Homo sapiens: one gene and its partners. The protein of the gene in region 3 interacts with the protein of the main gene of each other region in a biochemical or structural test. Each region holds a gene or a part of one and is shown on either strand. Other genes may lie near its edges. The genes, in order: SNX9, CLTA, SYNJ1 and PACSIN2.

Evidence for each region.
Region 1: the proteins of SYNJ1 (region 3) and SNX9 interact in a test that uses a peptide from one of them, tested with the Homo sapiens proteins (one study listed by IntAct).
Region 2: the proteins of SYNJ1 (region 3) and CLTA form a complex in vitro, tested with the Homo sapiens proteins (one study listed by BioGRID).
Region 4: the proteins of SYNJ1 (region 3) and PACSIN2 form a complex in vitro, tested with the Homo sapiens proteins (one study listed by BioGRID).

The regions. Positions count from the first base shown.
Region 1 is NC_000006.12:157,896,218-157,903,247, reverse strand, and holds part of SNX9 (sorting nexin-9), read right to left. Parts: intron 6,422-7,030; coding exon 6,250-6,421; intron 1,351-6,249; coding exon 1,203-1,350; intron 1-1,202. UniProt on the Homo sapiens protein: Involved in endocytosis and intracellular vesicle trafficking, both during interphase and at the end of mitosis. Required for efficient progress through mitosis and cytokinesis. Required for normal formation of the cleavage furrow at the end of mitosis.
Region 2 is NC_000009.12:36,207,909-36,212,577, forward strand, and holds the end of CLTA (clathrin light chain A), read left to right. Parts: exon of another isoform or gene 1-646; intron 647-1,358; coding exon of another isoform or gene 1,359-1,412; intron 1,413-2,716; coding exon of another isoform or gene 2,717-2,752; intron 2,753-3,694; coding exon 3,695-3,866; 3' UTR 3,867-4,151; downstream 4,152-4,669. UniProt on the Homo sapiens protein: Clathrin is the major protein of the polyhedral coat of coated pits and vesicles.
Region 3 is NC_000021.9:32,640,994-32,648,023, reverse strand, and holds part of SYNJ1 (synaptojanin-1), read left to right. Parts: intron 1-1,421; coding exon 1,422-1,631; intron 1,632-2,234; coding exon 2,235-2,378; intron 2,379-3,017; coding exon 3,018-3,056; intron 3,057-4,566; coding exon 4,567-4,614; intron 4,615-5,890; coding exon 5,891-5,929; intron 5,930-6,057; coding exon 6,058-6,128; intron 6,129-7,030. UniProt on the Homo sapiens protein: Phosphatase that acts on various phosphoinositides, including phosphatidylinositol 4-phosphate, phosphatidylinositol (4,5)-bisphosphate and phosphatidylinositol (3,4,5)-trisphosphate. Has a role in clathrin-mediated endocytosis.
Region 4 is NC_000022.11:43,012,135-43,019,886, forward strand, and holds the start of PACSIN2 (protein kinase C and casein kinase substrate in neurons protein 2), read right to left. Parts: upstream 3,016-7,752; 5' UTR 2,887-3,015; intron 1-2,886.

The DNA of each region.
Region 1 (7,030 bases), on a different chromosome or scaffold from region 3:
CAGATTAACATTCTTTGATATCTGCCTTGAATCATGGAATTGGAATATTGGGAAAAAGTATTAGTAATTTCAAAAAATAAACTAAACATAACTGCTGGAAGGAGTACTTGAAAATTCTGATGGAAGTCATAAATTACTAATATATCTCCTTCAAGCTACACTGGCATAGACTACAGCCTTATTTAGGTCTCTCCAAAGAATCCTACAGTGGTCACTGGTGCCCACATGCTTTCCTGTTAAGTAGGGTATCTACAAGTACTGTTAAAAACTTTTTTTTTTTGGCTAGGTGTGGTGGCTCAAGCCTGTAATCCCAGCACTTTGGGAGGTAGAGGCGGGCGGATCACTTGAGACCAGGAGCTTGAGACCAGCCTGGCCAACGTGGTAAAACCTCGTCTCTACTAAAAATACAAAAATTAGCTGGGCGCGGTGGCACATGTTTGTAATCCCAGCTACTCAGGTGGCTGAGGCACGAGAATTGCTTGAACCCGGGACGTTGGGGTTGCAGTGAACCAAGATCGCACCACTGCACTTCAGCCTGGGTGACAGAGCGAGACGCCTGTCTCAAAACAAAAAAATAAAACACAACACTTTTTTTTTTGTTTTAAATCTAAGAGAAACCTAAGCTAACACAAAGCTCCGGACCACGTTTTTAGGCACAGGAGCTGAAACACGTGCTTTGGCGCCTGAGGGCCTGGCTTCCTGACTGGAACACTCGATGCGTCTCTCTGGGCATCAGTTTGCCTGCAGTAAAACAGGGGTTTTATGTACCACAAAGGGATATGAGGGCTACATGCGAATGATACAAACCTCTCTGCACAATGCCTGGCACATGGCAAGTGATTAACAAAACAGTAAAACATTTAAAAGAGAGTTGTTATTATTATTCTTTTTAGCTTTCCTGTGACATTAGCAATGAAACCTTAATATGTCATAAATTGATAAAGCTAGAAGTAATGAAAACAGTTTGGGAAATCATTAAATAAAATAAATATTTCACTTATTAACCTTGTAAATCAAAAATCCTTTTTTTTTTTTAAGTAAGCTTCTCAGTTAAGATCCAAATAAAAATAACTGAATCATATCCAAAACTTAGGAGATCACTGGAAAGGGAAAAGGCCAGCTGCCTCTTGGTAGGGTATATACTTTGTATTAATGTATACTTCTACCACGGCCCTGGTTCCCTGGCTCCCCTTTAAACTTACTTGTTAAGGGGAATTTTCATGGATGAGGAACTAGCACGACTGTTTCCTCGCTGAGCGCCGCCTGCATCAGCTGACTCTGAATCCTTAAAGTAGGAAGAGGATTTGGGCCCATCCCAGTCTTCATCCCAGTCATCATCATCACCAGTTGCTAGAGGTGAAAATGGAAGATCATCAGTTAAAAAAAAAAAAAAGACCAAAATAAAAATGAAATTACTTAATTTTCTGACAGTAACTACCTACTGGGCAAATCAATTTTTTTTTGATGGAGAAAAGGGTATAGTATAGGAGTATAATATGGATGTTAAGAGTAAAGGCTGTGTAGTCAATTTTAAGCCTTGAATTACAGATTCTTTTAGTGCAAAAGACAAATCAGAAGCAACTTAAAGAGGGCTATCAGATTACTTTTAAATTTTTGACACGGGCACCGAGATGACACAGTGGAGAAAGGGCAGTCTCTTTAGTAAGTCGTGCTGGGAAAACCAGGTATCTACATGCAAAAGAATAAAACTGGACCTTGTCTTACACCACACACAAAAATCAACTTAAAATAGATTACAGACCTAAATGGAAGACCTGAAACCACACAACTCCTAGAAGGAAACACAGGGGAAAAGCTCCTTGGCGCTGGCCTTGGCAAATGTTTTTTTGAGTATTACACCAAAAGCACAGGGAACAAAGTCAAAAATAACAGGCGGGACTACATGGAACTAAAAAGCTTCTGAACAGCAAAGGAAACAATCAAAATGAAAAGGTAGCCTATGGGCTGGTGTAGGGAGACCCCCTGAAACTATTGCTATGGAATAAAAGATGAAATGCTCCTGATTATTGTAAATACAAAATTGCATGCAGGATTGTGTAAAGACAGTGCCAGGTGGGACTGCCAGAATGAGCCAACAGCATGTGATGTGCTTCCCCCTGCAGAGAGCCTATGAATGGATGTGCAGTCAGGGAGGTTTCACATCACCAAGATTCCTATCCCAGAAAAGCAGATATTCATAGCTCTGGGAATGGAAAGTGACCCTTGTAAAGAGCCTATAAACAGACACATGGGGGCACCGTCCATATGGATAAGATAGGGCTATAAACGCCCTCATCTTGCCAGGGCTCTTCTGGGCCTCTTTAGGGTTAAGGCATACTCCCTTCTGAGAATTTCTGGTCTAACAGGTTGTCTAGCTTCACGTCCTGTTTCTACGGATTGTTTGTAACCAGCTTTTGCTGCAACTGTTACTGCTGATTAATATCTTGCTAATCATAGGTTATGGAAAGACTGTGTTTCTGTTTTAAGGCTCTGTCAGAAATTACTGATGCATACACTATATTGTAAATTCTTATCTCTGTATACTGTACTTCTGCATACAGATGTTATGTTAAAGAATTACTTCATCCCCATGTGACCATCTCACCTCATAATCAAATGACCCTAAATCCCTCACTAACCTACCCCCGCCCTCACTAAACTTAATAATAAATGCTGGTATATCCAGTGCATTGTTGGCACTGCAGGACCAGAAGGCAGTGACCCCCCCGGACCCAGCTTTCGCTATCTTGTGTGTGTCTATTATTTCTCAACGGGCCGATCCGCCTGGGAACACAAAGAGAACCCCGTTGCATTGCGGGCTGCTGGCCAGATCCCGCAATAGGCTGGGAGAAAATATTTGCGAGCCATGTATCTGATAACCTGTTAATATTCAAAACATATAATGAACTCGCACAATTCAATAGCAAATAAAAAAAGCTCAATTAAAAAATGGACAAAGGACCCAAATTGACATTTTTCCAAAGAAGACCAAAAAATGGCCAAGAGGTATATGAAAATGCACTCAACATCACACACAAAGAAAAATACCACATGGATCTTATTTACATGTGGAACTTTTAACAGGTCTTTAAAAAAATCTAAAAAACTTATAGAAGCAGAAAGTAGAAAGGTGGTTACCAGGGGCAGGGAGACGGGGAACTAGGGAGATGCAGGTCAAAGGTACAAAGTTGCAGTCATGTAGGATAAGTCTAGAGATCTCATGTACAGCATGAGGACTACAGTTAATGATATTGCATTATATTTGGGAAACCTGCTGAGGGAGATTTTAGGTGCTCTTACCACACACACACCCACAGGCACGCACTTGCACATATACACGCGCACACACACACACTTAGGTAATCATGTGAGGTGAGGGATATGTTAAGCGCTTGGCTGTAGTAATGATTTCAGTATATACATGTATATTACAACATCACGCTGTATACCTCAAATATAGATAATTTTTTTTTTGAGACGGAGCCTCGCTTTGTTGGCCAGGCTGGAGTGCAGTGGCGCAATCTTGGCTCCCTGCAAGCTCCGCCTCCTGGGTTCAGGCCATTCTCCTGCCTCAGCTTCCCGAGTAGCTGGGACTACAGGCGCCTGCCACCACACCCGGCTAATTTTTTTTCTATTTTTAGTAGAGATGGGGTTTCACCGTGTTAGCCAGGATGGCCTTGATCTCCTGACCTTGTGATCCGCCTGCCTCGGCCTCCCAAACTGCTGGGATTACAGGCGTGAAAATATAGATAATTTTTTTAAAGGGCTGTCAGTCCACATCACTTCAGATAAATGCAGACTGTAAGAATGTTAAGTGGTACACAGTAGAAAAGACTTCTAGAGGCCTAGACACTGATAAATCTAGTCTTATACATTTACAAATAAGCAGAATACCCTTTAATTCTAGAGGCTTGGGGAGGACGAAAGGGACGACAGAACTTTGAAAAGCAGCTGTTTAACACTAACAATAAAGGGGAGAGAAGGGCAACGAGGGGGACATTAAAAAGACCGAGTTGGGGTGTGGGAGAAAAAGATGAGAGTGAAGAAGTAATTAAGCAGCATCAGTAGCTACTATTCTGACAATAATCCCCGTGTCAGATAAGGTGCTGTGGGCTCTCCTCCTTCTCCTTCCTCCCCTGTGGGCTCTCCTCCTTCTCCTTCCTCCCCTGTGGGCTCTCCTCCTTCTCCTTCCTCCCCTACTCTAACGGCCTGAGTGTCCTTTAGTGTCAGGTCCTAAGAGTGCCATTATGGAGAAGCCGAGAGACAAATGCCAAATGGGAGAAGAACAAACTATGAGAAGGATGTGGGCCAAGTGACCAGAGAGCCAGACCCCAGGAGTCTCCCAACGCTTCTACCCAGCCCACACCCCTGGTCCTGCTGACAGGCAGCTCCTGTCTATGACTGCCAGCCTTCAGCCGGGACCTGCACCCTGCTTTGGGCTTACAAGTGAGGTCCTTGCTGTTTAGAACAGACATTCAATTCTTGGCCCAATGTGCTTACAGAGGAGACAGGGTTCAGGAATTGTTAAAAAATAATGGGAGACTACCTTCTTATTTAATTTCAGATCAGACATAAATACCCTTAATTCCCAAATTATTTCCCATTCCACACATTTCTCTTCTGCCTCAGTATTTCTATTCATAGCCTAGTCAAACAGGAAGTTAAAACAGTGAATGCAGAGGTCTTAAACCAGCAGGATGAGCCACATCCCATCCACATACACGTTTCTGGCTCAAGATTTTAAAACAAACGTGTTAGCTGCTGAGATGTTAAAATCAGAAGGTGACAAATAACCAAGACTTCTCATCTCTCTGAAGATGTGGAGATCAGAACGTGGGCTCAGCTTCCCTGCAAATGCAGTGATCCACGGGCGACAGCAGGGGCCCTCAGCCTTCTGCAGCCTCCACCGCCCATTCTGCTTTTACTTTACCAACCCAGCGTTTGAATCTGTGACTTCACACAGATAAGTAAGACTGAACTAAAGTTAGAGTTAATGACCATCTACAATTGAATCCAGGTTTGCTACTAGTGAATAAGGGCAACTGCAAGCAGTTCTTTTGAATAAAATCTATTTTCAACTCAATGACCCAGAGTGGTATTGTGAGGTAAGAAATAGCCATCTGGTCTGCGTCCCTAGTTCCCGGCACAGAGCTCCTAAAACTCTTGTAACTTCCTGAATGTTAGGTGTGCAAGGTGTATCTTTTGTTCTGATATTTGGTCTCTGACCCTGGCTCCTGACACAGATCTCCTAACCCTTGGAATTTCCCGGGTGGTAGGAGCATCTTTTGTTCAAATGAGGTGACTCCTGGTGGGATGGGGGCTGGTCAACAGAAGGACCAAGCCAGGATTAGAAGCTTGGAACTTCCAGCTCCACCTCCCATTCTCTGGAAAGAAAAGTGGGGCCAGAGGTTGAGTTAATAATCAATCATGCCGGCCAGGCATGGTGGCTCACACCTGTAATCCCAGCACTTTGGGAGGCTGAGGCAGGTGGATCACCTGAGGTCAGGAGTTTGAGACCAGCCTGGCCAACATGGTGAAACCTTGCCTCTAATAAAAATACAAAAAATCAGCCGGGTGTGGCGGTGGGCGGTGGGCTCCTGTAATTCCAGCTACTCAGGAGGCTGAGGTGAGAGAATCACTTGAACCTGGGAGGCGGAGGTTGCAGTGAGCCGAGATTGTGCCACTGCACTCCAGCCTGGGCAACGAGAGCAAAACTCTGTCTCAAAGAATAATAATAACAATAATCGATCATGCCTATGTGATGAAACCGCCGTAAAAATCCTTGAGCTACAGGAAAAGAGATTCTGGGGTGCTGAACATGTAGGGGCACCTGGGGCAGGGGGGCATGGAAGCTCTGCGTCCCTTCCCCATGCCTCGCCCTATGCATCTCTTCATCTGGCTCTTTATTTGCATCCTGTAAATTGAGCTTTGTAATAAACTGACAGTAGTAAGTAAAGTGTTTCCCTGAGTTCTGTGAGCCGCTCCAGCAGATTAATTGAACCCAAGGTGGGAGTGGTGGGAACCCCCTTGATCTGACTCCAGGTAGACAGTGTCATGACTGTAGGACACTCAGCTGGTGTCTGCTGCACAGCTGCTTGGTGGGTGGGGCAATCCTCCCTTCCCATGCTGTGGTCACAAAACTGTTCTGTGTTGTGCTGAGTGTGGGAACAGCAAAAACAGTTCGGTCTTCCCTGTCTCTCCCACTCAGCCATGGGCGGGCAGGGTGGGACCTTGCACCCCTCTCCTCACCTGGTCCTTGGTAGGCCTGGGGGTGGCCGAAGGCAGTGTCCCAGTTGTTGGGAGTGTTTGTGTTTCTTTGGGCTCCAGCCCCCTCTGGCTGGGCCCCCCAGCCTTCTGAGCTTTCCCAGTTCCCAGATTTGGAGGCACTCCAGGCTGACCAGGGGTCATTGCCACTGCCAACCTATTGAGAGGGGTAAAAAGAAGGAGAATTTTTGTGACTTTTGGAAACCATGACTCAATTCAATAATGAACTGACACAATTGAATACAACAGGAGTACTAAAAACAATTAATAGAAATGTATTCAAAACAATTTTACATACATAATATTTTAATTTCCAAACATGTAGGAAAGCACAAAAGGTAGCATCAATCTAATTTTACTGATGTGAACACATTTTACCGTATTTGCTTAGGAACTTTGAAAACAGCAACAAAGAAACTATTAGATGCAGCTACAGCCCTCTCTTTCTTTCTCTCCAGAAGTAACCACTACTTTTCTGAACCTGTATCCATTCCTATGTGTGTTTTCATACTTCAGCTGCACATGTACACATTCACAAACAACTGCTTTATATTTTTAAAATTGACCTAAAGGATGTCATACTGTATGTATCTCTTTGCAAGTTTTCTTTTTCCCACTCAACATGAGGACCTATTTCTAACTGCTTTATAGCGATCTGTTGTATTTTTAAGTAGGCTTTTTAATTTGAAATGGAATACATGTATAATAAAAAAAATTCAAACAATAAAAGTATATGCAATTTGAGAAATACGCCTAACATCCTGAG
Region 2 (4,669 bases), on a different chromosome or scaffold from region 3:
CACTCATTCTGCCCACAAACAACTCTGTTTTCCTGCTGAGTCACTTTAAGTTATAATCAGCCTGCTCTTTTTGCTTTCTTTAAATTTCCACAAAACACCTCCTGTGTATAAAACAAAATGGGAAAGAAGGAAGGGCATGTGTGAGCTTAAAAATTAACTTAAAATTACTAGAATTTGCCTTCAAATAAGTATGTGAGGTTAGCTTAATGACCAGGCATGATTATCCTTGAAAAATGTCTTTCCCCTTGCCCACCCCAAATCGACTTGACAAAGGACAGGGTAAGACTCCATGAGGGAGGTTCCATGTCCAGCCACAGTGGAGAAGAGTGGGCTGGCAGAGCCCAGGGAGTCAGTCCAGGACAACAGAGTCAAAGCCAGCCTGGCCCCTGCTGTCAAAATTTATCCACCCAGTCTGCCCCCTCCTTCCTGTCTGAGAGCCCTGCCATGTTGAGAGTTAAGAAGGGATGAAGTTCTGGATTCTGGGCTGCACCTTATCAAAGCCAATTGAGTCTGGTGTAAAAATATTCAGAAACTGTACCCGCTTCTTGAGTAGAGAGAGAGCCATATTCAGGAACAACAGAAGCCAGGGCCAGGATCCTAGTCCAGTGTTCTTCCCACCAGACCACTCACCTCCAGCCGTTTTTTCCTGTAAGGTTGAGATTTTAAAATGACGATATGTGTTCCCAGGATTCTGGAAGTGTATCCCACCCAGACAGTGTGGGGAAGCAGTAGTTAGATAATCCAAGATAAAACTGGCTTTGGGTCCTAGCGCATCTGGTGTCTGGCAGCATTCCTGCCCAGTGCATTAACTGAAACAGGAAGGTGGCGTGGCTTTCTGGGCACATACAGCAGGGAAGAAGCATGACTATACAGTAGAAAGAGCCCTGGACTTAGGGCCAGGCTGCCTTGGTTGTGAGTCCTGAATGCTGCCACTGTGGTGTAGCTGAGCAAGTTGTTCATCTCTAAGCCTCAGTTACCTCATCTGTACAGTGGGGGTGAGAACAGTCAGGGTCATAGGTTGTTAACAGTTAAGGATTGAATCAACATAATGTATGTGAAAGGGCTTAGTCCATGATTGGGTGCTTAATAAATGCCCGTGTTGCTGGGGTGAGCCAAAGGGATGAAGTTGGCAGTGCTTGCTCTGTCGTGGAGCAGTCCCCACGTGGGAAGGCCAGCGGGAAACCAGGCCTGCTGAAGTCTCCAGCGCTGGAAGCCTCACGGGGGTTAGGAAGGAGCCTTGGGAGCAGCTCCTCAGAGCACAGTTGTACCTCAATTGTGGATTTTAGATGTTTCTGCTTCTCAATGTTCTCTCTTTTTTCCTGCCTGCTTGCCTGCCTTTTGGACCTCTTGCTGTCTAGGGTGGCAGATGAAGCTTTCTACAAACAACCCTTCGCTGACGTGATTGGTTATGTGTATGTTGCAAAACTAATTCCTTTTTCTACATCTGATTCTTTCTACTTTTGTTTAGAGTTAATGCTCCTTTTATGTCACAAGTTGCTTTGCTTTTTAAATTATTTCAAATTGGCACTTTGGGGGCTGCCTAAGAATTGATAAGCGGGGTATGATCTGTTGATGAATCTTCCAGATTTGTGACTCCCTGCATCCTCTGATGGCCATTTTTCATATTTGGGGTTTTGGAGGGAAGAAAGCTAACTCGCTTTCAAAATGTGTCATTTGCGATCTTATCTGGGAACGGTTTGAGGCTCGGGGGAACTCTGCTCTCTTGCTCTTGGCTGCCATCACTGCTGCCATGCCCTGTTGCCTGCCTGCCTCAGGTGGGAAGGAGGTTTCCCCACCTGGGAGCAGGTGGCAGTCCCAGGAGGTTAGGAGCCAGTGAGCAGCAGCACCTTGCATTGCCAAAATCAGAGCTGTGGGGCAGCATTTTCCATACTTGGTTCATTCAAACAATGTGGGGTCGTTTGCCTCTCCCTCAGGCAGAAGAGTCCAGAGCAGAGGGGGTTGTCTCCAGTGGGTGTCTATAATTGTTCCTCTGTGGTCTTGCATGTCAGAAATTGCTATTTAGTGGTCAGCTTCTGATGTCCTGTCTCCTAGCACAGGGAAGCCCCCAGCTTTGAGATCAGGATAGTCAAAGTGTCTTGATACGGGCCACTTGGGCTTCTCCCCCTGACCCCCCCAAAAGAAACCTGCATCTTCTCTGGAGAAGGTGTTTTTCTTATTCTTTTTTTTTTCTTTTTTTCTTTTTTCTTTTTTTTAAGGATTTCTTTTATCAAAGCAGTATTGCTGAAGAGTTGGAAACAGTTCTCATTGTCTCCTCCTTAAAAATTAGGGCTGGCTTTACATGAGAAGTAAGGGTGGAATGGAAGAGGAGAGGAACCTGTGGAAGGTGGGCGATGAGCTCAGGTCTGTAGAGCCTCTCAGGGCCTATGACCTTGAGATGTTCATCCCCTTAGAAGATAGAACTGGGTTTCCTGGGCCCCCAGATGCATTTGCAGTGAGACTTGTGAAATGCTGGACTTACAGGTGGTGTTTGATTTGATTTCTGCACATTCTCTCTGGAGTAGAAATGGAGACTGGAAAGGTCGAGTCTGGTTTTGCTGGGCAGCTGGGTGGCCAGCAAAGCCAGCTGCACGTCCCCAAGCACAGATAGAGTGGCAAGGGCATGTCCAGCTTACTGACCATCTGCATTGAGCTCATTCTCATTTTCTATATCTGACTTAAAGTTTCTCTCGTTTCTTTTCTTCTCTTCACCTTTAAGCACAAACATAAACCATCCTTGCTACAGCCTAGAACAGTTAAGTAAACCTTTCTCACTGCCCCTAACTGTGTGTGCCATGAAGTCGCAGTGTTGTAGTGGCTCTGGGCTTCAGCGGTGTTTGCCACGGCCATCCCTGTGATAGTGCCACCCCTCCGTCCCCACAGACCAGTCATCTCCATTGCTTTTGCTTTGCCCGTGATGCTTGTTGGAGTAGATGAATATAGTGTGTCTTAGCGCTGTCCTTTCCGGCTGTAGCTCCCACCAGTTAATTCCGAACTGGGGGTGGGCTGACCTTGATGTGAAAGAATGTTGGAGCAGCATCCTGCCAAAAAGCAACTCACGTTGGCTCTCCTGCCAGTGTGCCCTGAGTGGCCCCAAGGCACCTGGCTGGAGGGAAAATGGCAAACTTTTGGCTGAACTGGAGAATGTCCTAACAAACCCCCTTCCAGAATGGCTTTAGTCTCTAGTGCTTGCTAGCATGGGAGCTTTGTCTTGAATTCCTTTTGATCTGCCCCGTTTCTCTCCAGCCTTAGGAATAAATCTAGAGGCTATTGTGCAATGATCTGTGGGCTTTTTAGAAGTCTCTAAATTTCCTTGAAATTCAGTACAGCCCAGCATAAACTACTCAAGTTCTTGATCAGCCTGCTGCTTTGTTCTTATTAATAAAAGCAGTGTGTAGCTGGCTAAGGACTTGTTTTATTAATGCTCCACAGGAGCAGAGACAGACAGAGAGACATAGTGAGCCTTGAACCAAACACCTGTATTCCAACATTTTACACAGCGGTCTGGGCACCCTGTGCCTAGGAGAGCCAGCTACGTGTCTACCTGAGTCTGACCTGGGCCAGGGGCTGTTATCTTGGGAAAGCCAGAATGTCATTAAGAAAGGGACAAATAGGCAGTTGCTTGTGTAGCAAGGCAGCCACCAGGTTGCTCAAAGGGGGTTCTGCATAAACCAACATATTTTGTTGTTGCTTCCAGGGCAGCAGAAGAAGCCTTTGTAAATGACATTGACGAGTCGTCCCCAGGCACTGAGTGGGAACGGGTGGCCCGGCTGTGTGACTTTAACCCCAAGTCTAGCAAGCAGGCCAAAGATGTCTCCCGCATGCGCTCAGTCCTCATCTCCCTCAAGCAGGCCCCGCTGGTGCACTGAAGAGCCACCCTGTGGAAACACTACATCTGCAATATCTTAATCCTACTCAGTGAAGCTCTTCACAGTCATTGGATTAATTATGTTGAGTTCTTTTGGACCAAACCTTTTTGTCTTTAGAGTTGTTCATTGTTTGTGATTGCATGTTTCCTTCCTTCAACTGTGTTCTCCCTGGCATTCAGAGAGGAGGGAGAGGAGGAAGAGGAAGGGGAGGGAAGCTTCCCAAGAGTAGCCTCAACCTGTGCTTCTGTGCATTATTCTGAGAATAAATTTCTGTTTCAAACTGTATTATGTGAAGCTTCTTTATTGACCTCAAGATGTGTTGTAGTTTGGAGTGAGGTTGGAAGGAATTTCCAGGAGGAATTTCCTTGAAATTTCTAGGGCTGAGGAGGCACAGCCACTGGGCACACAGCCCTGCCTTGAACTAAGATAGCACCGGGATCTAGAGTGGGATCCTGTGGACATTTTCATTTGAGAAGGGAGTTTAGTGGCTGAAGGTTAACCCCCTCATTATCTACCTAAGACACAGCTGTGAATCCTCTCACCAACCTAGTCGTTTTCTCCCAGATGGGCTCTTGCTTGCCAGTGTCCCTCAGTTTAGGGTCTTGGATAGTATATTTCGGCAGGAGTCTGTGGGGCACGTAGACTCTAGTAAGACCTTGACTCCTTTGGATCCGGCCAGTAAGCCTGAGTCAGGACGGCATTCATGTGTGGCTAGCCCCATTACTGTTGAGTCCTGTAGCACATGTTGGGTTCTGTGCCATCCCAAGCACTTGGTTCATATTTCTCTTGTAAAATCCTTCATC
Region 3 (7,030 bases):
AGGGGTTCCCATCTTAAGACTTCCCTCTTCTCTGTGAAGTGTTGAAGTGATCTGCAGGAGTGGGACAGCTCACAGTTTCAGGAGGGTTAAGGAGTTTTGCAGTAAAGCTCCTGAAGAGCAAAGGGTGAGGGGAAGAGCAAACCAGCAAATCATGGAATTGCCAGGCACTTTAGGCCAGAAGAGACTGAAAAGCATAATTTCAAATGTGACTGCAGTTGTCAGGACTGGGTGGTTTTCTTTAGCAGAGGCAGTCAGCAATCCAAGTGTTATCACAGAAAGATTAAACAGGGGAATCAGTGCAGGGATGGGGTTATGTCAAGCACGTGCAATGGAAGAAGAGTGAAGTAGGGTAATGTTTGAGATGAAGAACCATAGAATCTGAAGGTAGGTACAGAAGAAAGCAGAATCAGATGGAGGTAAAAGTTAGAGGGATCAAACCCTGGCTTCTGAAGAAATCAAAAGAGAAGGAGTAGCCAAGGGAGAGAACTGAAAAGCTGGGAGGCCAAAGTCAGAGTGAAGCTTTTGAGTTTATTATTTCAGAAGAGTGCAGTTCTGAGGGGTGAGGGTTAGGAGTGAAGGCGAATGTCCATAAGGATAGGACCAAGGCATTTTGCTATTGAACGAGTTGTCCACATGGACTTTGATGCCACGCAGAAAGATGGTGCGGGACCTGACTTACAGTCTTGCTCTCTGCTTAGTCCTCAGTGAGTGGGTTCAGGAAATGGAAGAATGGACGTTGGAGATGACTGTAGCAAGTGGGGGTAGAGGATGTTACATAAATTCCTGATGGCATAGCCTCAGAGCAGTAGGACTTTTTGTTCAGGGTTGGAAGACTAATGTTCTGGAATGGCAGTTAGGTTGCAAGGGTTACCTTGTGCCCACTTTCCTACCCAGAAGTAAGTGGAGATGAGGAGACCCTGGGGGAGAACCAGTGTTTACTTAATTAAAGCAAAGCGGGTCTTTGTGGGGTGAGGGTTGCAGGGAGGAGCCTTCTGGGGGAAGACTGTGTGGCTCCTGAGAGCTTGTTGACTCTGAGGCTGGACCTGGGTTAGGCAAGGGAGTGGGGCAGTTCCACAGAGCACAGTGGACAGGTTTGGAAGGAGAGCAGGAAACTTGAGTTGGCTTGCACTGGAGAAGCTGCTCTGGGGCATATTGAAAGCCCATTGGGTCACCCCAGCTCCAAGTGGTTGGTCACCTGACATCTTATTGCTCAGAGACAATAGATACCTTTACATCTTCTGAAACAAGCATTTCTACTAATTGTGGTTTTATACATGCCTTCATGCTTAATCCATGTGTGTTTGCAATGACATAATGTTCATATTTGTTTTGTGTATTTTAACTTTTTAAAACCTAAGGTGAAAAAAATCTCTGAGCAAGTTAAAATGGAGTTATCTCTGATCAAGCCTGCTTTTCCTTAGGTGATGTTGATGACTATAGTGCTGAAGTGGAGGAACTTCTTCCTCAGCATCTCCAGCCATCTTCAAGTTCCGGCCTTGGTACTTCCCCCAGCTCTTCACCCCGAACTAGTCCCTGCCAGTCACCTACAATATCAGAGGGTCCTGTACCTTCCCTTCCCATCAGACCAAGCCGAGCACCGTCAAGAACTCCTGGGCCTCCCAGTGCACAGAGTATGCATTTTATTTGAAAGTTTTGTATGGCTTCCTGTGGCCAATGTGCTTGATGTTGGAGAGTCATCGTTTAAGTTTCATACCTAGGTGATAAAGTGCACCCTGTTTTCTCCGGTACAGAATAGGAAAACTTGTAGATGATAAGCTCTCAATGGAAAGGAAACTTGCTATAACTGTCACTAGATGACAATTGTTCTTAATCTTTTTTCTATGTGGTTAGGTTTGTCTATGTCTTATAACTGATGATTTTCTATGGTATGAACCCGTTAACTATTTGAGCTTTTTCTTCTCTCTACTGGCCAGACTACAAAATGGCTTAACTCAAACAATACTTTGTGCATATCAATAGGGCCACTTAGTAAATTAGCTTTCAGCACCTGAGGCCTAGGTAAGAAGTCAGCACAGAGGTAGCATTATTGCTGCCATGGTACCAAAGGGCAGTTTAATAGTAGACTGCTTTTGTTATTCATACTGAAAATACATGCCCTTTCTTTACACCATTGTGCACATTTTATAGAACATTACACATATATATGAAGGACTGTTCCCTTCTGTCAACAGCTACTTAGAAGCTGATCTTCTTACCTCCTGTGCGCTTTTTAGGTTCTCCTATTGACGCGCAGCCAGCAACGCCGCTGCCGCAGAAAGACCCCGCCCAGCCCTTGGAGCCCAAGCGGCCGCCGCCGCCCCGCCCGGTCGCCCCTCCCACACGCCCGGCTCCCCCACAGAGACCTCCTCCGCCTTCAGGTGACAACCTTTTATTTCCATTTCTGCTAGATGTAAAATTCTTCACTCTATTTTAAAATGTTTTGCATGTTTTCCAATCTCTAGCTTCTGGATTTTACAGTTTTTTCTATCATTATTGCTATTTCTTAGCTTTTCTCTAAAGAACATGGTAGGCGCAACAGACAAGGTAGAGTGTTTGCAGAGTAGATTCCTCTAAGGTGTTTTCACAGCTGCCTTTAGCTGCCTTCTCACCAGCCAGCCAGAGAGGTTTATTTTGTTTTTGCTAATTTGATCTAGTTAGGCATGTAAACTGTTCTTAGGTAAAATTAGGTTTAATTTTTTTCAAAATCCTCATTTCTGGATGATTTATAAGCATAAAATAATTAAAATGTACTAATTTCTGTAAAAGTATAATAAAACTGGAGAGCATACGTATTAATGTACAATTGTATGTATTTGTTTAATGTTCTTTTAAATTAAATATAGTGCTGTTACTTCAATTATAAGCATATGCATTGAATAATAGTTTTTGTAGTACGTAGATAATATGTAATTCCTGCATGATACTTGATGTCATGGATACTATAGCAATCTTTGACATTTCACTTCTGTATTTAATGTCATTTCCTTTCTGCTGCCTATTTTCTTATGAACTATAAGGGGCTAGGAGTCCTGCACCCACTAGAAAGGAATTTGGAGGTAACCATTTACATTTGTTAGCATGTGTGAATCGTGGTTCATTAATGTTTTACACCTGAAAGACATTTTAGATTTGTTTGATAAAAGTCAAAATGAATGACATTCTAGTTTAAAACTAATCCACAAATAAAACTAATAAAGGCTTTCATTTCCCAGGTAGGCTGGGATTGTTCATCAGGCCTAATTTTTTTTTTAATAAATGTGGTCGATTCATTTACAAAGATTTAATACCCAAAAGTTATATTAATTTTAAAAGTCATTCAGGTACAGTAAATACAGAACATTTCCCAAGTATCTGATTAGTGATACATTTATTTTCTAGTGGAAAAGCTTTTGGATTAGCAAAGAACTGTATGATTTTCTTTTCCTTTCTTCATAAGGAAATTTTTATTCACAAAGGGTCACTTTTTGTTTGAAGTATAGTTTATTTGGTTTACATGAAAACTCACAGAGCTCAGTTGGAGTTATACATTTGACAAGTTTATTTAATCTAAATCTCAAGAAAAGATGAGATGAGTTTTCACAATTCCTCAGAAGAACTTTTACAAATCCAGTGTTACTAAGGCTCACTGTGCATGTGTAGCCTGGTCTGTTTCTATTGTAGCTTGCCTAGTGACATGGCTGAGCAATTCAGGTCTTACTACAGACTGACTTTGCCTGTGTGTAGATCTTAATGACTGCGTGTGATAAGAATAGCTAAATTATTTCAGCATTACAGCTTCTGCCGAATACAGCTAAGTGATCATTTCTCCATTGACCTACAGAAAACATTTAATTTTTCCCTTTTCAAGCTCCTGCTTTTATAGAAAACATTTAATTTTTCCCTTTTCAAGCTCCTGCTTTTATTTAAATTTCCATGATAATTTTTGCTTATCTTCTGCTTTAATTAGGAAAACATCCTGTAGAAAATAAATTTAAAATGAATCTGTCAAAAGTTAGGCAAGCCAGTGGATTACAGTGAAATCTGTCTTAATTTTAAAAATTGCTCCCCTTCATAATTCTTTTGTAAGTAGTGTTTGCAACATGTTTTTTCATCCTATAAACAATAATTCCTTTACGTCATTATAGTACATTAGAGTTTTTAAAATTAATGCATCAAAAACTAACTTCAAAAGACTTACGTAGTCTCATAGAAATTTATGATTTCTTTCCTTTTGACTATCAAATATCAGAGTTTTTACTTGCTCTGGATATAAGGAGTAAGATGATTTTTAAAGCAAAGGTCTTCATTAAACATATTTTTTAAATTCCCTACTGGTAGTAATTGCATACATAAAAAGAAAACTGTCATCCTGTTTCTACTCTTCTGTTTGAGTAAAGGGAGGATTCAGATTTGGGCCAAGCATCTAAAGTCACTTTGGTTTGTATTGATATCTTTGAAGAAATTTAAAGCAATAAAAGAGCCTTTTTGCAAAAGTGAGTTTACTATGGAAATTGTCTTGTGTGCCTGCCTTTCATTCTGTGCTGTGGGCCCTGAACAATATATAGTTTCTGTTCTTTCTCTAAAAAGGTATTGGAGCCCCTCCCAGTCCTGGGGTAGCTAGGAGAGAGATGGAAGGTAACAAGACTCTTGCATTATAGAAGTGGTTCTCTCATTTTATTTCTCAGTGTCAGCGCCCCACCTCCCCACCCCGCAGTGTTTGCAGGCATACTAAATCTTTTCTTGGTCCAGCTGTAAACTTCTCTTTCCCCTCCTTATGTATACCTTGTATTTTTTCCTCTCTTCATTCTATGTCACCTATAGTTTCTAATGGATATCCATTTAATTTCCCTGAGATCCTTAATGTTGTTTGTACTCTGTTTCATATATAGTTTATATATGCCCAGGTTGTGAAATTACTGTTTAAGAATGTCTTCAAAATTCTTTTCAGAATAAGTAAAATATTTAGAAATGTACTTTACTAATCTGAAGTTTTAAAAATTAATGATTATAATTAAACCCTATTAATTCAGATCCAAGAATATAGTATTTTGTAGTTGATTTCAGATAACATAGCTATTTTATAGATTAGCACTGAGCCAGATTTGTTTAAAAGACCTTTAAGACTAGAGGCCATTTGTTATGATTTTAGTTATTAAAAGGCTGATGTATTTCTTATAACAATTGTACTTGAATTTCTTTACAAAAAGGAGAGTTTATTTAAGATGCTGCCCTTGATAGTCACTCCTACTCCTTTTGGCTCCAAGAGTAATTTATTTCATTTTATCCTTCAGCTACCTTTCTAATGAGTTTGAACATATTTTTAACACTGTCTTCCATAAGGCAGATATTTGGTAATAACATATGCCTGTCTTCTGTCTTAATGATGGGATTTTGTTATAGAAATCCGAAAGATCTCATCATAAGATAACCTTATCCACAGTGACATCTACAGCGTGAAGCCCTAAAGTATTGCTACTAGGAGCCTCTTGTGTAATTTGACAAATGCAGTCCTGTCTGTTGCTCAGAAGCCACTTGTCTGCCAGACTCTAAGGGGCAGCAGTGCCGCATCTTGTGACCATTCACACAGCTGACTGTATGTTTTCAAGGTTCACGAGAGAGTTCTATGGGGAATGCCACCCTAAAAGTGGTCCCATGAGTGAGATATCAAACTAAAGTCACCACTTGTCTCCCATAAAGGTCTATCTAAATATTGTAATTTTTCTCTCTTTTGGAGTATTTCATTCAGGACTGATAATACCCTTCATCATTATACAAAGCAAAGTGCTTTGTTTTGTTACCATCTCATGCCCCCATTTCTGCTGGTAATGAAGCAGAACAGCAAGCTGATGTTATGCAATATTGCTTAATTGTTAACTTACAACTAATTTTTTTTTCCCTTCTTGCTTCAAAGCACCCAAAAGCCCTGGAACAACAAGGAAAGATAATATAGGTAAAAACACTTGAATGTAGCTATTCACCCTTAAAACTGGACCGTGAAATAGACACTTGGAATATAAGTACATGGTTTCTTGTTTATTTTTTTAAACTTAAATATATGATATGATGTCTTTGTTCCAGGACGCAGTCAGCCTTCACCTCAAGCAGGACTTGCAGGCCCAGGACCTGCTGGATACAGTACAGCCAGACCGGTAGGTAAAACCTCGCCTGGGGCCAAGGGGTCTCGGTTCTAAGTCCTGTTTACTACTAGTCAGTTTTGTTACCTTGGAGAAATCATGTGACCCTTCAAGGCCTCAATTTCCTCATCTCTAAAATGAGGGAATTGCACTTGATGATCTTCCGACTCTAACATTATTTTAACATACTCTTCAAAAATAACAAACTTCATTATTTGGATAAAAGTGATACACTTAAAACAATTATGGTCACTAAATAAATATCTTAAGAGTCTCAGTATATGAGGAAATGATGGATTTGGGCAGCTTTTTATCATTTTACCTGAGTAATTAATGAAGATATAAAGTAATCCTTCATTAAAAAGGATTTTAATTACATTTCAGAAAAAAAAATGATAAATTCAGTATAGTAAAACTGGTTCTAAAGGTTTTTTTCTCTTTTTGGTTTTTTTCTTGATCAGGTTCATCATATTCCGTAAAGGTATTAGAAATAGGAGAGTAGATGTTGTTACAGGATTTTTCCCTACCTGATGAATGTGTCTTTTCTGTATGTTTATATGTTCTCTTATACACATAGGTTTTTTATTATTTGAAAACTTTCTCTGGACTATAACAGGTAATCAAGAACAGAGAGAAAGAGCAAATAGAAACCAGTAATCAGTGACTTAGGCTAGTCCAGTAGGAGCTGGGACTACTGAGAGGCCCATATCTGAAGAGTAGGAAACTGAGAGCTATTACTGTACCTAGAAATTAAGATTATTAAGATTGTGAGAACTGAGGAAACCACTTCCTATGAAGATAGAAGCTTTTTGTCTTTTCTGTTGTAGCTGTCCACTTAACAATCTGAAGGTTCTTTTTTATATGTAATATTACTCTTCAAATATTTATCCTCCTTTTTTCAAAAAAAGGGAAATTTG
Region 4 (7,752 bases), on a different chromosome or scaffold from region 3:
CTCTGTCTCAAAATAAATAAATACATACATACATACATACATACATACATACATACATACATACATACAAACATACAAAAACTAGCCAGGCAAGGTGGCAGGCGCCTGTAATCCCAACTACTGAGGAGGCTGAGGCAGAGGAATCATTTGAACCTGGGCAGAGACTCTCTCTCAAAAAAAAAAAAAAAAAAAAAGCAAGGACAAATGCCCCTCTGCTCCCACTCCAGAAATGCCTGGCCATCAGAGATGTGGATGGGTATCCAGGATTAGGGAAAAGTTCATGTTATCTCCCTGCAGAATGCTATGTTGGTGGAAATCCAGAATTTTTTTTAAATATATGCATACTTTTAGATTTATTTATTTTTAAACAGAGTCTCACTCTGTCACCCAGGCTAGAGTGCAGTGGTGTGATCTCAGTGCACTGCAACTTCCATCTCCCAGGTTCAAGCAATTATCATGCCACAGCCTCCCAAGTAGCTGAGGCTGAGATTACACGTGTGCACCACTACGCCAGACTAATTTTTTTTTTTTTTTGAAACAGGAGTTTTGCTCTTGTTGCCTAGGCTGGAGTGCAACGGCCGGATCTTGGCTCACCGCAACCTCCGCCTCCTGGGTTCAAGCAATTCTCCTTCCTCAGCCTCCCAAGTAGCTGGGATTACAGGTATGAGCACCACCACACCCAGCTAATTTTGTATTTTTAGTAGACATGGGGTTTCTCCATGTTGGTCAAGCTGGTCTCGAACTCCCGACCTCTGGTGATCCGCCCGCCTCTGCCTCCCAAAGTGCTGGAGATTACAGGCGTGAGCCACCACGCCCGGCCTTAATTTTTGTATCTTTAGTAGAGACGGGGTTTCACCATGTTAGCCAGGCTGGTCTCTAAGTTCTGACCTCAGGTGATCTGCCCGCCTCGGCCTTCCCAAGTGCTGGGATCCCAGGCGTGAGCCACCCCGCCCAGCCTAGATTATTTAAATATCACATCACAACTTCATATACATTTGAGATTAAAAGTGATAAAGTTCCAAGTCCCAAAGCAGCACGAGCTAAGGATACCATTTCCATTCAAATGAGTTGTTATTCTTCTCCCAAAAAGTGGATAAAGAGTGCAGACCTAATCACCCATCTACTTCTCTGTGTTATGTTACTTTCCCAAGTAATAAATATCACCAGCCTAATGGCCACTTTCTTTAAAGCTTTAAGTCTATTGTCAAAAGAAAAACACACCAATGTTTTTGATGTAGTGGCCTCATATCTCAACCAGCATAACCTCACCAAAGAGGCTACCAAACTCTAGAATTAAGTTTAAGTCCACACAAGTGAAAGTTTTCCAGGTGAATCAAGAGAGATCCAAGTTGCACTGGCACAGCTTCAATGTCTCCATGAGGAGGCTGCATGCAGGCAGGCTCATGAATCAAGTGGAACGACAACATCTTGGGCAAGAACAGGAGGGCTGGCATTCAACACTGCCTGCCTGGTCGGTTCCCTTGCCCTGGGCTCCAACCTGGCAATCCCAGGAGGGTTAAAACAGAACTTCAGCACACGGGAATAACCGCAGAGGAAGGCACCGAAAAGGAGGGAAGGAAGAAGGTGTGAGCTCACCATCTGCAGCTGAGGTTCAAACTCTTTGAGCTGGTTTCCTGATTTTCATCAAGACAGCCAGGCAGTATTTGGTAAACAGTGTACCAAGTAGCCCTGGAGACTCTGAGCAGCCTACCCCCTTAACCACAAAAACACCGGACAGGCGGAGGGAAAAAGAGAAGACAGGATCCAGGAATGGTGCACACACCCAGCCAAAGGCCACCTTCCCTCAGGCACCCAAGCCAAGAGTGGCATCCCCAGGTCCTGTTATACGTCAAAGGCTGCAGCCGTGTGGGCCCCAAAGCAATAGCACAGCTTGCTCCCCTGACCAACCAACTCCTTCTGAAAAGAAAATCGACCTTCTCTGATGGAGCCGAAACCCAATGAATCAATGAAATTCAACAGCAGCAGCAATCACTACCTCTCCAATTGCGGACCTCTCAGGATGCCTGGCCAGGCTTGAAAGCCCTAGAGGAGTAAGGAGTTCGGATTTCTGATTCAGTGAGTCTGGGGAAACTCTGAGGAGGGTCACAAGGGCAAACCTCCCCGGCCTCTCCTGCTTGGCCCCAGCCCTAGGACGTGCTGCGGTAAGGGCTTTGCTCCCCCCGCCCTACACACACACACACACACACACACACACACAGACACACACACACCACCCCCCCCCCCCCGGGACACGGAGGGTGGGAAGGAAGGAAATGGAGGCCGCTCATCAAAGCGCCCGAAATCAGCGCACCCGCGTGTGTCCTGCGTCGCCCCCCAGGCCACCCCAGGACTAAGCCCTGCCCTCTCACCGGCGCGTCCCAGCCACGCCTTCCCTCCAGCGTTGCTCCGGCACCCTCGCCTAACCTCTGCACGTCTCGGATTCCCAGCTTTCTCCTAAATCGCGTCCCTCCAAAAGTCGCCCCAGCTCCCCCTTCTGCAGCTGTCTACACCTCCCCCACTCATTAGCAGCTCTTAACCCCCGACGGCCCTGCTCCTGCACTTCCCTCTCCAGCAGGCCCCGGACCCCGGAAAACTGCCCCGCTCCCACAGCGCCGCCCCCATGGGCCCCCGCCCCTTCCCCGAGCCGACCCCACTCGCCCTCGTCCTCCCCAAGATGTCTTCTCCAGGCGCCCCCCGGGGCCCCGAGCACTCGCCCCCTCCCACAGAGACAGGAAGTTCCGCGCGGCCCGACCCGCTTCCCTCAGGGCGCGGAGCTCGGCGCGGCGGCCCTGACGGGGCGCGGGCCCGGCCGCGGACCAGCGCCCCCGCGTCCCGCCCGCGGCGCCCCAACCGTCGCGGCGACCCCTGACCTCGGCGGCCACTCACCTCCCAATCCGTCGCACACTCCGTTCAGGCTGCCACGGCGTCTCCAGACCCAGCTCCGGCCGGGCTCCCGCTACCGCTTTTGCTCCGGCAGCACTGCCCAGCCCTGCCCAGACCCCTGCGGCCGCTTCTGCCGCCAGCCGCGACCGCACCGCCCCCGCCGCTCCCGCTGGGCTCTGTCCATTGGCTACCGGACACCGAGCCCCGCCCCACAGCCTCCCCGGCGCCCCCGATTGGGCCAGATGAGTAGAGAGGCGGCTCACCCCGCGTGAGGACGAGGGAAAGCCCCAGGACGCGCATTGGTGACTTCTCCTGTCAATCAAACGGGGAGTGCCTATTTAATGGGCTGCGAGGGTGGCGCAGATTACTCTCCCAAAGCCGCTCGCTGGTGGTGGTCCTTGAGACGCGCTTCCCGGGGCTGGAGTTTTGCGGTTTCGTCGGCATCCAGGGGTAAGAGGGCGCGGCAGGGCAGCACCGCACCTGACCGGAAGTTCAGGGAAGGTAATCCTACAGTCTTTCAGAAAGTTTCCTCTCCCAAGGGACTCAAAGAAGCTAATGTCGTTAGGAGCTCCTCCGACTTGCGCCAAAAGCGTCATTCCACGTGGACCCGCTTAGTTTAAACGGGGGGTTGGGGGGGCGTATGTTGCTGCTCTCTCTAATAAAATATATTTGGATGGCAAGGCACCAGGCAATGCACACGCATTCTTTCCAATTCTCACAATCACCTTGCATGATAGGGTATTAGCCCCGTTCTGCAGAGGGAAATACTCTTGAAGGAAAATGGAGAGCACTTCCTGAGCACTGTCCTACGCGCTGTCCAAGCACTGCTTCATGTCATCCAGGTGGAGAGGATGGTGAGAGGAACCCCAGGTGAGGGGTGAGCCAGGTAACTTGCTGGGGGTGATGTGGAGTAAAGAGAGTAAATGGCAGAGCCAGGATTAGAAACCCAGGTCAGCCCAACCCTTGAGAATAATAATGATGACTGTGTAGCACTATGGGAAAATGCTTAAACTAAAACGTTAAAAGAAAAAGCCAGATAGAGCCAGGCATGGTGACATGCACCTGGAATCCCAGCTTCTTGGGACGCCGAGGCAGGAGAATCGCTTCAGCCCAGGAGTTTGAGGCCAACCTGGGCCACATAGCAAGACCCAGTTCTCTAAAAAGTAAAATAAAAGAAAATAATAATAAAAGAAAAAGCTAGATACAAAATGGTAGAAACTGTAGAATTGCTGCTACATATAGATAGGTATGAGAAAAGAGTCCACAAAGAAATCTAGTGGTTGTTTACTTTCTAGACTGCTCTGTGGCATTGTCCTTATGACAATAATTGAGAAAGAAACAAAAGAACCGGCTAGGCACGGTGGCTCACGCCTGGAATCCCAGTACTCTGGGAGGCCGAGGCGGGCAGATCACAAGGTCAGGAGTTTGAGACCAGCCTGGCCAACACAGTGAAAGCCTGTCTCTGCTAAAAATACAAAAAATTAGCTGGGTGTGGTGGCATGCACCTGTAATCCCAGCTACTTGGGAGTCTGAGGCAGGAGAATCACTTGAACCTGGGAGGCGGAGGTTGCAGTGAGCCAAGATCACGCCACTGTACTCCAGCCCTGGCGACAGTGCGAGACTCCATCTCAAAAAAAAAAAAAAAAAACCAACACACAGTGCCAGGACAAACCACTGCCAAGAAGTCTCTCCTCATTCTCCAGGACTGAGCCAACAGGGACCTCTTTGCCACCCACAATACCTGTGGACCATTTGTATAGATAGAACTCAGCCATCAGCTCTCAGCACTTTCATATCTGGGTAAGTTCCGCTTACATCGCAATTCCATGCCCTATAAAAATATAGAGCCTTGTCGGGCGCTGTGGCTCACGCCTGTAATCCTAGCACTTTGGGAGGCCGAGACGGGCGGATCACGAGGTCAGGAGATCAAGACCATCCTGGCTAACATGGTGAAACCCTGTCTCTACTAAAAATACAAAAAATTAGCCAGGCGTGGTGGCGGTCGCCTGTGGTCCCAGCTACTCGGGAGGCTGAGGCAGGAGAATGGCGTGAACCCGGGAGGCGGAGCTTGCAGTGAGCTGATATCGCGCCACTGCACTCCAGCCCGGGCAACAGAGTGAGACTCCGCCTCAAAAAAAAAAAGAAATACAGAGCCTCTCCCAAATTTTTGGGGGTTTTTGTTTTGGTTTGTTTGAGACAGGGTCTCACTCTGATGCCCAGGCTGGAATGCAGTGGCACAATGATGGCTCACTGCAGCCTTGACCTCCTAGGCTCAAGCCATCCTCCTGCCTCAGCCTCCCAAGTAGCTGCGACCACTGGTGCGCACCACCATGCCCAGTTAATTATTTTTTAAAATCTTTGTAGAGACAGAATCTCGCCATGTTGCCCAGGCTCGTCTTGAACTCCTGGGCTCAAGCAATCCTCCTGCCTCATCCTCCCAAAGTGCTGGGATTACACGCACGAGCCACTGTACGCAGCCTCTCCCAAGGTTTCTGAACAAGCGTCTGTCATCAGGCCTCCTGCTCTTCCACACACCGCATGCTCACTGGTCTCACCATCATCCCCTTATCCAGTTGCACGAATCCCCCTGCACTCCAAGCACTGCTGAGTCTAGCAGGGGTTCCTGAAGACTGGAAGCTGGAGAGAGGCATCAAGCCTGGCACTGCCCAGCAACAAGACAGGATGCCTCGTGAGCCTTTTTGGCTGCCTGGCCCCAGGAGTCACCACCTGGTCACGTGACCCATGCCACACTCTGGCCACTTCACATGCCTTTGGTTTTCTGCACTCTCCCCCTCTTCTTTTCTCTCCTCCTCCTTCTCAGGACAAACACAAAATTCCTTTCCTTGTCTTGCACCTAGCAGCTTGACATCATTGCCTGAACTCTTTGGGCCTTATACCTTCTGTCCTGGCAGCTTATCAGGGTATTTTTCCAAAGATAGCTCCCCGTTGCCACATGTGAGCACCCCAACTTTGTTCCCCACAAACATTTCACAACATTCCATCCAGCCTCCTCCTTCAGTCATATTTGAACAGGCCTGGAGCCCAATCCTGCCTCCACCCCTTTTCAGCCAAGGGGCCTTGGGCCAGTCACTGCAGCTCTCTGCACCTCTGTGTCCCCTCCGTGATATGGGGATTAGGAAGAGCAACAGGGCTGTGGTAAGGAGTCAAAGCATGGAGAGCTGTTCCGGGCACACGGCTGTGAATGCTGTGTCTGAACGGTGGACATGTGGTCATGCCTTGTCAGCTGCTCCTTCCTTCCCCCAAAATGTGACCATTGCCACAGAGTGCCTGGGACTGAGACTGACCGGCTTTAGTTTAGTCCTTTATTAACCATTTCCCACTAAGCAGCCTGGATAAACAGACAGTCTGGGCTAAAACATACTTGCACAGAGAATATCATATTCTCAAAAAATTTAAAACATCCAGATATAGTTGTATTGCTGAAAATACAGTGATACGTGTATTTTCAGTGTGATAAGTACAGTGATTTATGGATTGTACAGTGATACATGTCTTTCAAGAAAAAAAATCAAAATCAGTTACAGACATTCACTCACTCAATAATTCCAATATTTAGAACGTGCCAGGCAGGGAAGGTGGCTCGGGGTGGACCTGGGTCCTGCTGATGTTCCTGGAAAGATCTGGCAAGGACATAGAGTTTAGAACAGAAGAGGGTGCAGTGGTATTGAAAACAGTGCTGTTTACCTGAGCCAAAATGAGTGGAAGATTACAGAGAGCAAAGATCAGGAGGCAAGAACTCCTCCTGTCCAGGAAGAGAGGAGGGTTCCACTTGGCTGCATTGCAGGCACAAAGAGAAGCCAGGGGAAACAAGGCAGTAAGGCAGCCGAGCGGCAAGGAGCTCTGCGGCCCTGGCAAGTGACTTCACTACTCCAGCCCTTGGTTTTCCCTACTGTAAAACGGGGATAATCACAAAACCTAGTGATTGTTAGCTTAGAGAATCTGTGAGGATTTGTGAGTTCGCTCTGCAATATTCAGCATGGGGCCTGGCACAGGTCATTGTTCAGTGTGTTCAAGGACCCCTGATTTTGTAAAAGTGCTTCAGGGTATATTCACTTTTTTAAATTTTTAATCGTGTCTAAAAGAAAAGCCTGGGCGTGGTGGCTCACGCCTAAAATCCCAGTACTTTGGGAGGCCAAGGCGGGAGCATCACTTGAGTCCAAGAGTTGGAGACCAGTCTGGGCAACATCATGAGATCCTGGTCTCAAAAAAAAAAAAAAAAAAAAAAAAAATTAGACAGACGTGGTGGTGCAGGCCTGTAGTCCCAGGTACTCAGGAGGCTGAGGTGGGAGGATCACTTGAGCCCAGGAGATTGAGGCTGCAGTGAACCAAGATTGCACCACTGCACTCCAGCCTGGGCAACAGAGCAGGACCCTGTCTCAAAAATAAATAAATAAATAAATAAATAAATAAATAAATAAATAAATGGAAAACAAACCTAAGAACACGTGCTGTGCACCAACTGTTAATATTTTGGCCATATCAAAGCACTAACTATGGCGGCTGGAGGAACACATTTCTGAACATACCTCTGAATGACATGCTCACCTGCCAAGTACGTGTAAAGATCTGAATTCTTTGTAAATGTGTCATTGATTAGGAGGCAATTACCCCAATCTCCCTGGCTTTGTTTTGTTTTGTTCCATTCTGGCTGCACATGTCTGCTCACGTCAAATTGTACCAGCAAGTACAATGTTCCACTCCTGCCATGCCCGGCTGGAGCCTGCTCCCAGACAAAGGTAGGTATGGAGCAGCATACAAACAGGGCTTCCCAAGTGGGCACTGGGCACTGCCCAGGTGCCCTGAATTGGGATCAATCCATTCTTTTTTTTTTTTTTTTTTTTTTGAGAC